2 separate regions of the Homo sapiens genome follow, and region 1 is linked to region 2. Evidence: fine-mapped expression QTL. A gene starts in region 2. The other region holds a variant in brackets. All regions are shown on one strand. Distances are from middle to middle. Region 1 overlaps TNFRSF10A (TNF receptor superfamily member 10a). Region 2 holds the start of TNFRSF10A (TNF receptor superfamily member 10a).

Evidence for each region. PIP is the estimated chance that this variant, and not a neighbour inherited with it, causes the effect.
Region 1: its variant is fine-mapped to the expression of TNFRSF10A in whole blood (TOPMed, PIP above 0.99).

Annotation. Positions count from the first base shown.
Region 1 is chr8:23,198,485-23,203,853 of GRCh38, reverse strand. It overlaps TNFRSF10A (TNF receptor superfamily member 10a), which reads left to right. Exons shown (of 10, transcript NM_003844.4): 3 at 1,093-1,206; 4 at 1,935-2,046; 5 at 3,094-3,167; 6 at 3,254-3,349; 7 at 3,937-3,968; 8 at 4,406-4,588. Among named protein-coding and RNA genes, the nearest start is that of TNFRSF10A, 24 kb to the left of the region's middle. The variant A/G (reference allele first, on the strand shown) is at 3,179.
Region 2 is chr8:23,221,941-23,227,309 of GRCh38, reverse strand. TNFRSF10A (TNF receptor superfamily member 10a) reads left to right here and starts at 2,208. Exons shown (of 10, transcript NM_003844.4): 1 at 2,208-2,554. The coding sequence starts at 2,249. TNFRSF10A-DT (TNFRSF10A divergent transcript) reads right to left here and starts at 2,089. Exons shown (of 3, transcript NR_033928.1): 1 at 1,187-2,089. RefSeq lists an enhancer at 1,816-1,955, silencers at 2,007-2,198, 2,366-2,615, promoters at 1,598-2,251, 446-2,251, 1,680-2,716 and a cis regulatory region at 2,637-2,716.

The sequences.
Region 1 (5,369 bases), 23 kb after region 2:
AGTGAGCCAAGATCACGCCACTGAACTCCAGCCTGGTGAGAGAGCGAGACTCCATCTCAAAAAAAAAAAAAAGCCTTTATTATTTTTCAGTAGTAACCTTAGTTGCCCCAGCACTATTACTCAATAACCACATTTTTATAATTGGTAGTGTCGTCATCGTAACACATTATCAAGGAAGTTTTTTTTCCACAGTTTGGGTTTTCTAAGAGTATCTTTCAATATCAGTAAATATGAATCAGAGGAGAGGGATAAATAAATGGGCACTGAAAGGGGAGAGTGAGGTCACCTGAAGGGGCGAAGCCCTGGAGGTGAAGGTCGAGCCTCCAGACATGGGCTCCCGCTGGCGACAGCTCCTGCAGGCTGTCACCTCAGTGCCTGGAGACCCTCTGCAATCCAGGGCAGCATGAGGTAGGCCTTCTTTCTGTGGATCATTCTTTGACTCTGTATAGGGAGGACCCTTTTTCCTTCCATTTTCCTCCCATGGCAGGTGGCATGGGCTGTATCTGAAGCCTTCCCCTCATCGCTGTATTGTTTCTGCGCCTGTTTGTACCTTCTACTGACCAAGAGCTCACTGAGGGCAGGGATTAGGACTTTTTGTGAGTTTCCAGGGATGCAGGTGGCATTGCCCTGGTCTCTAGGCCTATGTGGCCATTAATCACTTAAAACACAGCCACTTTGAATTGAGATGTGCAGTGAGTGAAAAATACACTCTGGGTTTCGAACACTTAGTATTCAAAATAAAAGAAAATATCTCAATGTTTTATCTTGTTTACATGTTGAAATGCTAATGTTTTGGATATTTTAGGTCCAAAAAGTACATTGTTAAAATTAATTTGACCTCATTCTCTTTTTACTATTTTAATATGGCTCTCATAGAATTTGAATTTTGCATGTGGTTTGTATTGTATTTCTGTCAGCAGCGCCAGTCAGAGGTGTGTATAGATGCAGAATTGACGACAAGACCAAGCCAAGAAGATGGGATTTCTCTGTCTGGGGTCTACTGATGGCCAAAAGAAGAGTTTCCTAGCCACCGCCACGATCCTCTGGGAACTCTGTGGCAATTCATTCATTGGCTTTTCTCTCCCTTCCCAGGATCTCATAGATCAGAACATCCTGGAGCCTGTAACCGGTGCACAGAGGGTGTGGGTTACACCAATGCTTCCAACAATTTGTTTGCTTGCCTCCCATGTACAGCTTGTAAATCAGGTACAGAATGTGTGGACCTCTTGTCCAGAGGTGGAGTGAGGGGCAGTGAGGTGGGAGTGGTAGCCAATGTGAGTCAGGGAACCAAGTTCCAGCCCAACTTGGTCTTCATCATACCCTGTTCCATGGTTATGTCTTAGGTCCATAAAATGAAACAGAAAGAAATCATTTTTATAATGCATGCCACCTGGTAGTGCAAACTATCAGCTCCAAGAGGGTAGGGGCATCATTACAGCACAAAGAAGGCCTGGCTGAGTGGACAGGGCTGAGTTTCAGCGGTGGTACGGGTCTGCTCTGGGGCCACGCTCCCCCTGGGCTGTGTGCTCCTGGCAGGTTCTCAGGCTCACTCAGCCTTCAGTTTCTCAGGCGCCTCCCTCTTCCTCAGCAGGCTGGGTTTTTGGGAAGTCACCCAAGGGCTCCTCTTCTTGCAGACTCTCTCACATACCATGTGCCTCCTTTGCTACTGACCATGCGATCTAAATGGTGCTTTTTCCCTAATCTGATGTAATAAATAATGAATCATGGTCCTTTTGTATGACTCCAAGTGTTGGTGACAGCTGAAGGGTGGGTGTCCTGTGTGAGCCCGAGTGTGCTGGTGCAGAATCTGGCCCTCAGAACTCCTTGGCAAACTGAGTTGAGCTGAGCTGAGGGGGAGGGAGTTGGGGTGGTGAGGAAAGGTCAAGGGACACGTCAGGGAAACACATTCCCAAAACCTTGTACTCTGTCATCAGATGAAGAAGAGAGAAGTCCCTGCACCACGACCAGGAACACAGCATGTCAGTGCAAACCAGGAACTTTCCGGAATGACAATTCTGCTGAGATGTGCCGGAAGTGCAGCAGAGGGTGAGACAACAGCCAAGGGGCTCCCAGCAGCCTCAAAGAACCCACAGAAGCAAGGAACCCTAAAAAGACCCGAGTCTCCTTGTACCCGTATCTATCAGCCCTGACCCCATGGTGCCTCCACCCCCATAGGTGTCCCTGAGCCTGTGGCGTCTCCTGAGCCTGCAACCTGCCCCTCCTGGTCCATCTGCCTGTCCCCACCCCTGTCCCCTGCAGTGGCCCCTTCTCACCCCTCCCCAGCACTAGTCCCCTTGGCCAGGCTGACTTGTTCACTAGGCACAGGAGGCCATGACTTAGGGCCCACAACAGAGGTACATGAAATATTTTATCTTGAAATCATAAGAAAATAATGGTATAGAATCCAGCTGGGGTTATATTTATATTTAAACAAATTGAGTCATAAAATGTAATTTTTAATATTTGCTTTTAATTCAAGAAGACAGAAATGCCCACAGCCCGCAAAAATCATAATAAGGCCATGGGTGGAGCTCCTTCAAGTTCCCATGAGGACCTGAGCCCACCCAGCCAGCCTCACCCCTGGCCCCTGATTTCTCAATAAGTCCTGTCTTTTTCCTATTTTGGTTTTGGAAGCAAAGAGTAATTGCTCTTCTCTGGTCCTCCAGTGTTTGCTGTGATTGAGAGGAACCAGCAGACAGGTGGGGGCGAGGGCTCACTTGTACTGTGGGTTAACTGGAGGAAGGGGCTCAGCTTGTGGCCACACGGGCTTGTGATCTTCCCCTGGAGTGTGATTCCTCCTAACGCAGGCCTCCCCTGCAGCCCAGGGAAGATTAGTGTGTGCCCAGCACAGAAGGCTCCTGGAACTGCAGCTCTGACCCCAGAGCAGGGAGGCCAAGGGGGTAAAGTGTGCATGCTCAGACCCTTCCCCAGCCTAAACAAGGGAGCATAGGGGGACCCCCTGCAGATACGAGGAGACTATCCTTCCCCTGACGCCTTCTCAGGGACATTGGGCAGGGAGAGTGGCTCCTCTTTCATCCCACCTGGCCAGCTTTCCATCAAGAGTCCCCCCCCTCCCTCCCTGTGTGTACCCAGGTGCCCCAGAGGGATGGTCAAGGTCAAGGATTGTACGCCCTGGAGTGACATCGAGTGTGTCCACAAAGAATCAGGTACAAAGCCC[A/G]CTGGGGAAGCCCCAGCTGCAGAGGAGACAGGGACCAGCAGCCCGAGACTCCTGTCTTTTCCTGTCTTTTCTCAGGCAATGGACATAATATATGGGTGATTTTGGTTGTGACTTTGGTTGTTCCGTTGCTGTTGGTGGCTGTGCTGATTGTCTGTTGTTGCATCGGCTCAGGTAGGTGCTGGCTGAGGGCAAGGGCTCTGGGCACTCTCTGCCCTGCCTTCTTCTGTTCCCACAGACAGAAACGCTCACCCCTGCCCCAAGTCCTAGTGTCTCTGGCCGGGCTCTATCTTCCTCCTTGTGATCACCCCCCATCCTCCCATCCTGTGCAACCCTAGGGCCCTGGTGTCATCCGTCCCTCTCCCAAGGCTGGGGGTCCCCTCATCTCCCAGCCAAGTCTGGGAAGGCAGGGCCAGTTCCTCCACTGGTCAGGCCCATCCAGGCAGGGGGCAGTCAGCTCCTCAACTGGATGACAAGAGTCGAGACGAGAAGTGGTTGTGGGATTTATGTAGCTTTGTTCAGAGCAAAACACAGAGCAGAAAACAGTGATGTTCCACTTGTTTGTTTTTAGCCTACTTCCCTTTATGCTCCCCGCTCCTGAAGGATCTCCCGAGTTAGCAGGGCCTCATGTGGATCCCCAGGCCCGGGGATCTTTGTCCAGTGTCCCAGCCCCCAGCCCACCCCTGCCCAACACTGCCCTCTAAGAAGGAGTGCTGCATGGGCCCCTCCCTGGCCACTAAGGGAACCGTCTTCTCTTCTAGGTTGTGGAGGGGACCCCAAGTGCATGGACAGGGTGAGTTGATTTCTCCAGGAGCTGGGGGCATCAGGGGCTCAGGAACTGCTTCTTGCCCACAGTGTAGTCCAGGTGGGTGGGTCCCCGTGCTCTCATGGCTGCCCTGAGTCTCTGAAGTGGCCTGGATGCTGTGCATTGACTATGGGGGACACAGGCCCTTTTGAGCATCATACAGGCTGGTGGGCCATTCTGTAGCCCTGTGCTTCCTACAGCCCAGGTGAGACCCTTACCCCACAGCCTGTACCCTGGGGATGGGGTGAGCCCCCAAGCCCAGCACCAGGGCCTGGCCCCAGCAGCAGGTCCTGGATGTGCTGAGCATGGACTTCCTGGAGTGACCTCACTGGGAGGGGGTGGTGGCAGCAGGTCCAGCCGTGCCCTACGGACCCCGTGGGGAGCCCTGGGTGTGGGCTTCTGAGTTGGCTCTTTGCCTTCCTAAGGTGTGTTTCTGGCGCTTGGGTCTCCTACGAGGGCCTGGGGCTGAGGACAATGCTCACAACGAGATTCTGAGCAACGCAGACTCGCTGTCCACTTTCGTCTCTGAGCAGCAAATGGAAAGCCAGGAGCCGGCAGATTTGACAGGTGTCACTGTACAGTCCCCAGGGGAGGCACAGTGTCTGCTGGTGAGTTGGGGACAGGCCCCTCCAAGACCTTGTAGGCAGGGGGTGAAGGCCATGCCTCGGCTCTCCTGGTCAAAGGGGAAGTGGAGCCTGAGGGAGATGGGACTGCAGGGGACGGGGCTGCGTGGGAAAAAGCAGCCACCCTCACAAGGGGACAGGCACTCTTCCAAATGTCTGCTTCTTAGTCCCTGTCCTGTCCTTGCCATGTCCTCAGAAACTGGAGCTCCAGAGGAATAGAGTGGGGGTCACAGGGTTTGTTGATGACTGAATAAGGCTGCACGGTCTCCACTGTGTGCTCCTACAGAAGTTAGGGAGCCCTTGCTCATAACAGCAGGGATTTTAAATTTACTCTGAAATTATTATTGCATTAAACATATTTGGATCTAAATCTCTGCCCAAATTTCTGCATATGGTTGTATGGAGGATTCCAAGAAGAAGCACAATTTCCAAGTCAGCCTGTAACAGTGCTGCTTACTGTGTACACGCACATACACGCACATGCACACACATGCATGTACACACATGCACACACACATGCACGTACCCACACATACAGGTACACACATGCACACAGCCCCCTAGTGTTGGTTTGTACCAGTTCATGTATTTTGATTTGACATTGAAGGGCTTTTTCTTTTCTTTTTTTTTCTTTTTTTTGCTATTTAGGAAAACATTGTTTTAAACGAACATTTCTTTGTTTTCACTGTTTTTGCGTAAGATCAGTGTCTTGTCTCTCAGAGTCTTTATGAGAAGGCCTGCTCTCCTACTCATGCTTTTTCTCACA
Region 2 (5,369 bases):
ATTAGATGTGTTCTAAGATATGGAATAAGATAAGCATGTCTGCTTTAACTATTTCTATTTAACATTGTACTGGAAATCCTATCCAGGGCAATTCAGCAACAAAGATGAATAGAAGGTATAAAGATTGGAAAGGAAGAACTGAGACAGTTTTTGGTTACTGACAATAGGATTGCTTACATAGAAAATCCTAAATAATCTATAAAATAACAACTAGAAATATATCAATTTAGCAGTACCATAGCATACAAGGCCGATGGACAAAAATCAACTGTATTTCTGTATAGTTGCAACAAACAATTTGAAAATAAGGGAAGCTAAATCAATTCCATTAGCAATAGTAACAAAAATAGTTAGAAATATGTTTACAAAAGATATGAAAGATTTGTACATGGAAAGTTTGCAAAATATTGTCAAGCTTAAGTAACAAATATCTAAATAAATAAATTTCATGGATTGAAAGACTCAAAATTGTTAAAATGTCAATTATTCTCATTCATCTCTACATTCAATGCAATCCCAATTAAAATTCCAGTAGGCTTTTTTAACTGAAAAAAATTATTCTATATTTAATATATACGGAAATGCAAACCATTTGGGAGGTGGGTAGTAGGGGGAGGACTTGAACTGCCTGATTTCAAGACTGACTATACAGCTCATAATTAGGACAATGTGGTAATTAGCATGAGAATAGCCAAATAAATAAACGGAACAGAATAGAGTCCGGAAATGGACACATACATATATATGGTCAATTTAATTTCAACAAAAGTGATAAGGCTATTGGATAAGGAAAAAAAGTCTTTTTTTTTTTTTTTTTTGAGACGGAGTTTCCCTCTTGTGGCCCAGGCTGGAGCGCAATGGCTCCATCTCGGCTCCCCGCAGCCTCTGCCTCCCGGGTTCAAGCGATTCTCCTGCCTCAGTCTCCCGAGTGGCTGGGATTACAGGCATCCGCCACCACGCCCCGCTAATTTTGTATTTTTAGTAGAGGCTGCGTTTCTCCATGTCGGTCAGGCTGGTCTCGAACTCCTGACCTCAGGTGATCCGCCCGCCTCGGCCTCCCAAAGTGCTGGGATTACAGGCGTGAGCCACCGCGCCCGGTCGAAAAGAGTCTTTTCAACAAATGGTACCGGAACACCATTAAAATATGGAGAAAAATGAACATCAATCAGCGCCCCCTTTCTCTTACCCACTCCTCAGCCCCAAGGTCGCCCTGGGAGTTCTTCGCAGGCAGGACCGTGACTCGCGTGGCTTTCGGGAGGCTGATTACCCACGCCCCATGCCCGTGCAGCGCTGGGTGCAGAGGAACCGCTGGAAGGACCTGTCCCCCGTGGGACCCCCACCAAGTCTCATCCCGTGTCATGTGCCAGATAGTCTCCCGTGGTTTAAGGACTTTCAAGACTCTTAACAGGTTAGGAAAATCCAGAAGAAAGGCAGAATTGGGTCCCTCGGGCTTGCCTGACACCAGGGACGGTGGAGTTGAGGTGACATTTCACTGGCATGGAGACCTGAAACCAAAAGCAGGATGAGCCGGGCACGGTGGCTCACGCTTGTAATCCCAGCACTTTGTAAGGCCGAAGCGGGCGGATCACGAGATCAGGAGCTCGAGACCAGCCTGGCCAAAACAGTGAAACCCCCGTCTCTACTAAAAATAGAAAAAAAATTAGCCGGACGTGGTGGCGGGCACCTGTAATCCCAGTTACTCAGGAGGCTGAGGCAGGAAAATCGCTTGAACCTGGGAGGCGGAGGTTGCAGTGAGCCGAGATCGTGCCACTGCACTCCAGCCTGGGCGACAGAGCTTGACTCCATCTCAAAAAAAAAAAAAAAAAAAAAAGGCAGGCTGAATCACTCGCCCGGTAGTGACGGAGGAGGCCGTAAAAGCCTCTTAGAGGCCAGACCCCGCAGTGGCCTCTGTGTCCTTCATTCCGCCACCCATCCGTCCACCGAGCGCCTGCTGGGTGCCAGGAACTGGGTCACAGAAAGGCTGAGGTCAACTCCCGACCGAGAAGCCTGGCGCTGGGACCAAGTGGCAAAACGACTCCGAATGCAGCGGCATCCACGCGGCGGCCGTGGTTGAGGAACAGAAGCTGAGAGCGGCAAGGGCGGTCACAGAGGAAGGAAGTTCAGGGTTAGCCAACAGGAGCCGCAGGTGCCCCGAAAAGGGGGCGGGGTCAGGGGTGCCCTGAACTCCGAATGCGAAGTTCTGTCTTGTCATAGCCAAGCACGCTGCTTCTTGGATTGACCTGGCAGGATGGCGCCACCACCAGCTAGAGTACATCTAGGTGCGTTCCTGGCAGTGACTCCGAATCCCGGGAGCGCAGCGAGTGGGACAGAGGCAGCCGCGGCCACACCCAGCAAAGTGTGGGGCTCTTCCGCGGGGAGGATTGAACCACGAGGCGGGGGCCGAGGAGCGCTCCCTACCTCCATGGGACAGCACGGACCCAGTGCCCGGGCCCGGGCAGGGCGCGCCCCAGGACCCAGGCCGGCGCGGGAAGCCAGCCCTCGGCTCCGGGTCCACAAGACCTTCAAGTTTGTCGTCGTCGGGGTCCTGCTGCAGGTGAGTCCCCACCGCGGTCCTGCCTGGGGAAAAGCGCGCCTGGCACCGGGAGGGGGCAGAGAGAGAGGGGGACGCGGCGGGGGTGCCTGGCCCGGGTCACTTGTGGCGGGGCATGTCCGGGCAGGAGGAGCCCGTCGTCGGAGTCGGAGGAAGAACGGGGTCCCCGGGGCCAGGCAGGAGCGACCCGGGCCTGGAGGCAGCAGAGCCCCCTCCCGCAGGAGGCTGGGCCCGGGGACTCCACCCCGTTGGCTGCTGCCTGGCGCGTCTCCCTCCTGCCCACACCTCACGATGTATCGGGAAGTTTCGGAATCGATAGAGCTCAAGTGTGTAAACTTCCAAGCCAACTCCCAGCCACACCAGCTGCGTGAAGGGGAGCGCCATTCTCCCCACTCCCTGATTCCCTCCCCACCCCCGTCCTTCTTTTCTTCTCTTCTTTTTTTTTTTTTTTTTTTTTTTGAAACGGAGTCTCTCTCTGTCGCCCAGGCTGGAGTGTAGTGGCGCGATCTCGGCTCACTGCAAGCTCCGCCTTCCTGGTTCAAGCGATTCTCCTGCCTCAGCCTCCCGAGTAGCTGGGAGTACAGGCTCCTGCCACCACGCCCGGCTAATTTTTTGTATTTTTAGTAGTCACGGGGTTTCACTGTGTTAGCCAAATCCGCCCGCCTCGGCCTCCCAAAGTGCTGGGATTACAGGCGTGAGCCACCGCGCCCGGCCCTCCATCCTTCTTTTCTTAGACAAATTGGTTAAACACGCAGCCCGGCAGGAAAAAGTAACTTTCTCTCCTCTGCTCGTTGTCTTCCGTTTCGAGTCCACTGAGCACACCGGCAGCAGTTTCCTTCCAGCCACTTTCTTGCGCATCAACAGGTACAGGGCAGCGAATTGACCACCACGAGGCAGGCAGCCAGGAGCGGGGCACGCCCTTCCTTCAGGAGGCAGCGTTTCCTGTGAAAGCAATCACTCAGTCTGGAAAAATGCCAATGCCTTCAGTTCTCTTTCAAGTTCATTAAGGCTCTACCAATTGTTCTCATCCAGATTCCTTCTATGTTAAGGAAAAACAAAACGAAAGCTAAGTACCTGAAGGATAAACCAGTCTTACAAGTGTCAGGAAATTTTACGTGTTTTTGTTTAACAAACTAAACAAAATCCAGGAATCCAATAGCATTTTGAAATCTCCAAATAATTACAGAATTTATGTTTTAAACGTCAGTTTATGTTAGGTGGAACCCACGTTTGACTCTTATTTTTAATACGCTTATTAAATGGCTTTCTTTTTGACAGGCTAGTGCGATTCCAGGTGGATGTAGGGCTCACCTGTATAGACAAGGTGAAACATCTGAATTTGGTGGTTTTGGAAATGTCACAGTCCGTTGGTGTGGCTATAAAAGAATACTTGAGGCCAGGCGCGGTGGCTCACGCCTGTAATCCCAGCACTCTGGGAGGCCGAGGCGGGCGGATCACGAGGTCAGGAGATCGAGACGATCCTGGCCAACACGGTGAAACCCCGTCTCTATTAAAAATACAAAAAATTAGCCAGGCGTGGTGGTGGCCGCCTGTAGTCCCAGCTACTCGGGAGGCTGAGGCGGGAGAATGGCGTGAACCTGGGAGGCGGAGCTTCCAGTGAGCCGAGACCACGCCACTGCACTCCAGCCTGGGCGACAGAGGGAGACTCCGTTTCGGAAAAGAAAAAAAATAAAAAAGAAAACTTGACGCTGGATAATTTTAAAAGAGGCTTATTTGGCACATGGTTCTGCAGGCTGTACAAGAAGCATGCCACCAGCATCTGCCTCTGGTGAGGCCTCAGGAAACTTCCACTGGTGGTGAAGGGGAAGGACAGCTGGATTCTGCCCATCAGGGGAAGGGGTGGGGAGGATGGCAGGAGGAGGGGGATGAGATCCGGAAGGGAGACGGGGAGGGGCCAGGTTCATTCTAACAACCAGGTGTCATGGGGAACTAAGATTGACAACTCCTGGGGGAATGTGGGAGGGGGCGGTTATGGCACCAAGCCTTTCATGAGGGATCCACCCCAAACCCCAACAGGCCCCACCAGCTACATTACGGTTCAGATTTCAACGTGAGCCCTGGCAGGGACAAAGGACCCGTAGCAGACACCAAGGCCTTCTGCCATCCCACAGGACCCTCTCATCCCACCATCCCTCAGCCTTCTTCCTGTGCATTTATAGGCACCTTAACTTTTAAAATTCTGACTGAAGAACAAATCGCATTGGATGTTTTCTATCAGTACATGCAAGTATCTCATTCTTTTTAACAGCATCATAATATTTAGTGCATGGGTGAAACACATGGCGTGAACCACAGTTAATTTTAATCTTCCATCCCATGGGCAATTGTTAACATTATGTCCTGCTTTTGTTTTTTCTAATTCCAGCAGCATTGTAGTGAGAACCCTTGTATGTGTCATATGTCCATATGTCAATGTTCCCTGAAGTATCGGGCAGCCCTTTAGAAGAGGAATTTTTAGGTACATGAGCTCATCAATGTAGAATTTTGTTTGGATATTGCTAAATTGTACTTCGGGAGAAGATTGTGCCAGTTTTACTCTCACACCAAGAATACAAAAGTGTGGCCGGGTGCGGTGGCTAACGCCTGTAATCCCAGCACTTTGGGAGGCCGAGACAGGTGGATCACGAGGTCAGGAGATCCAGACCATCCTGGCTAACACGGTGAAACCCCGTCTCTACTAAAAATTGAAAAAAATTAGCCAGGCACGGTGGCGGGCGCCTGTAGTCCCAGCTACTCGGGAGGCTGAGGCAGGAGAATGGCGTGAACCCGGGAGGCAGAGCTTGCAGTGAGCCGAGAT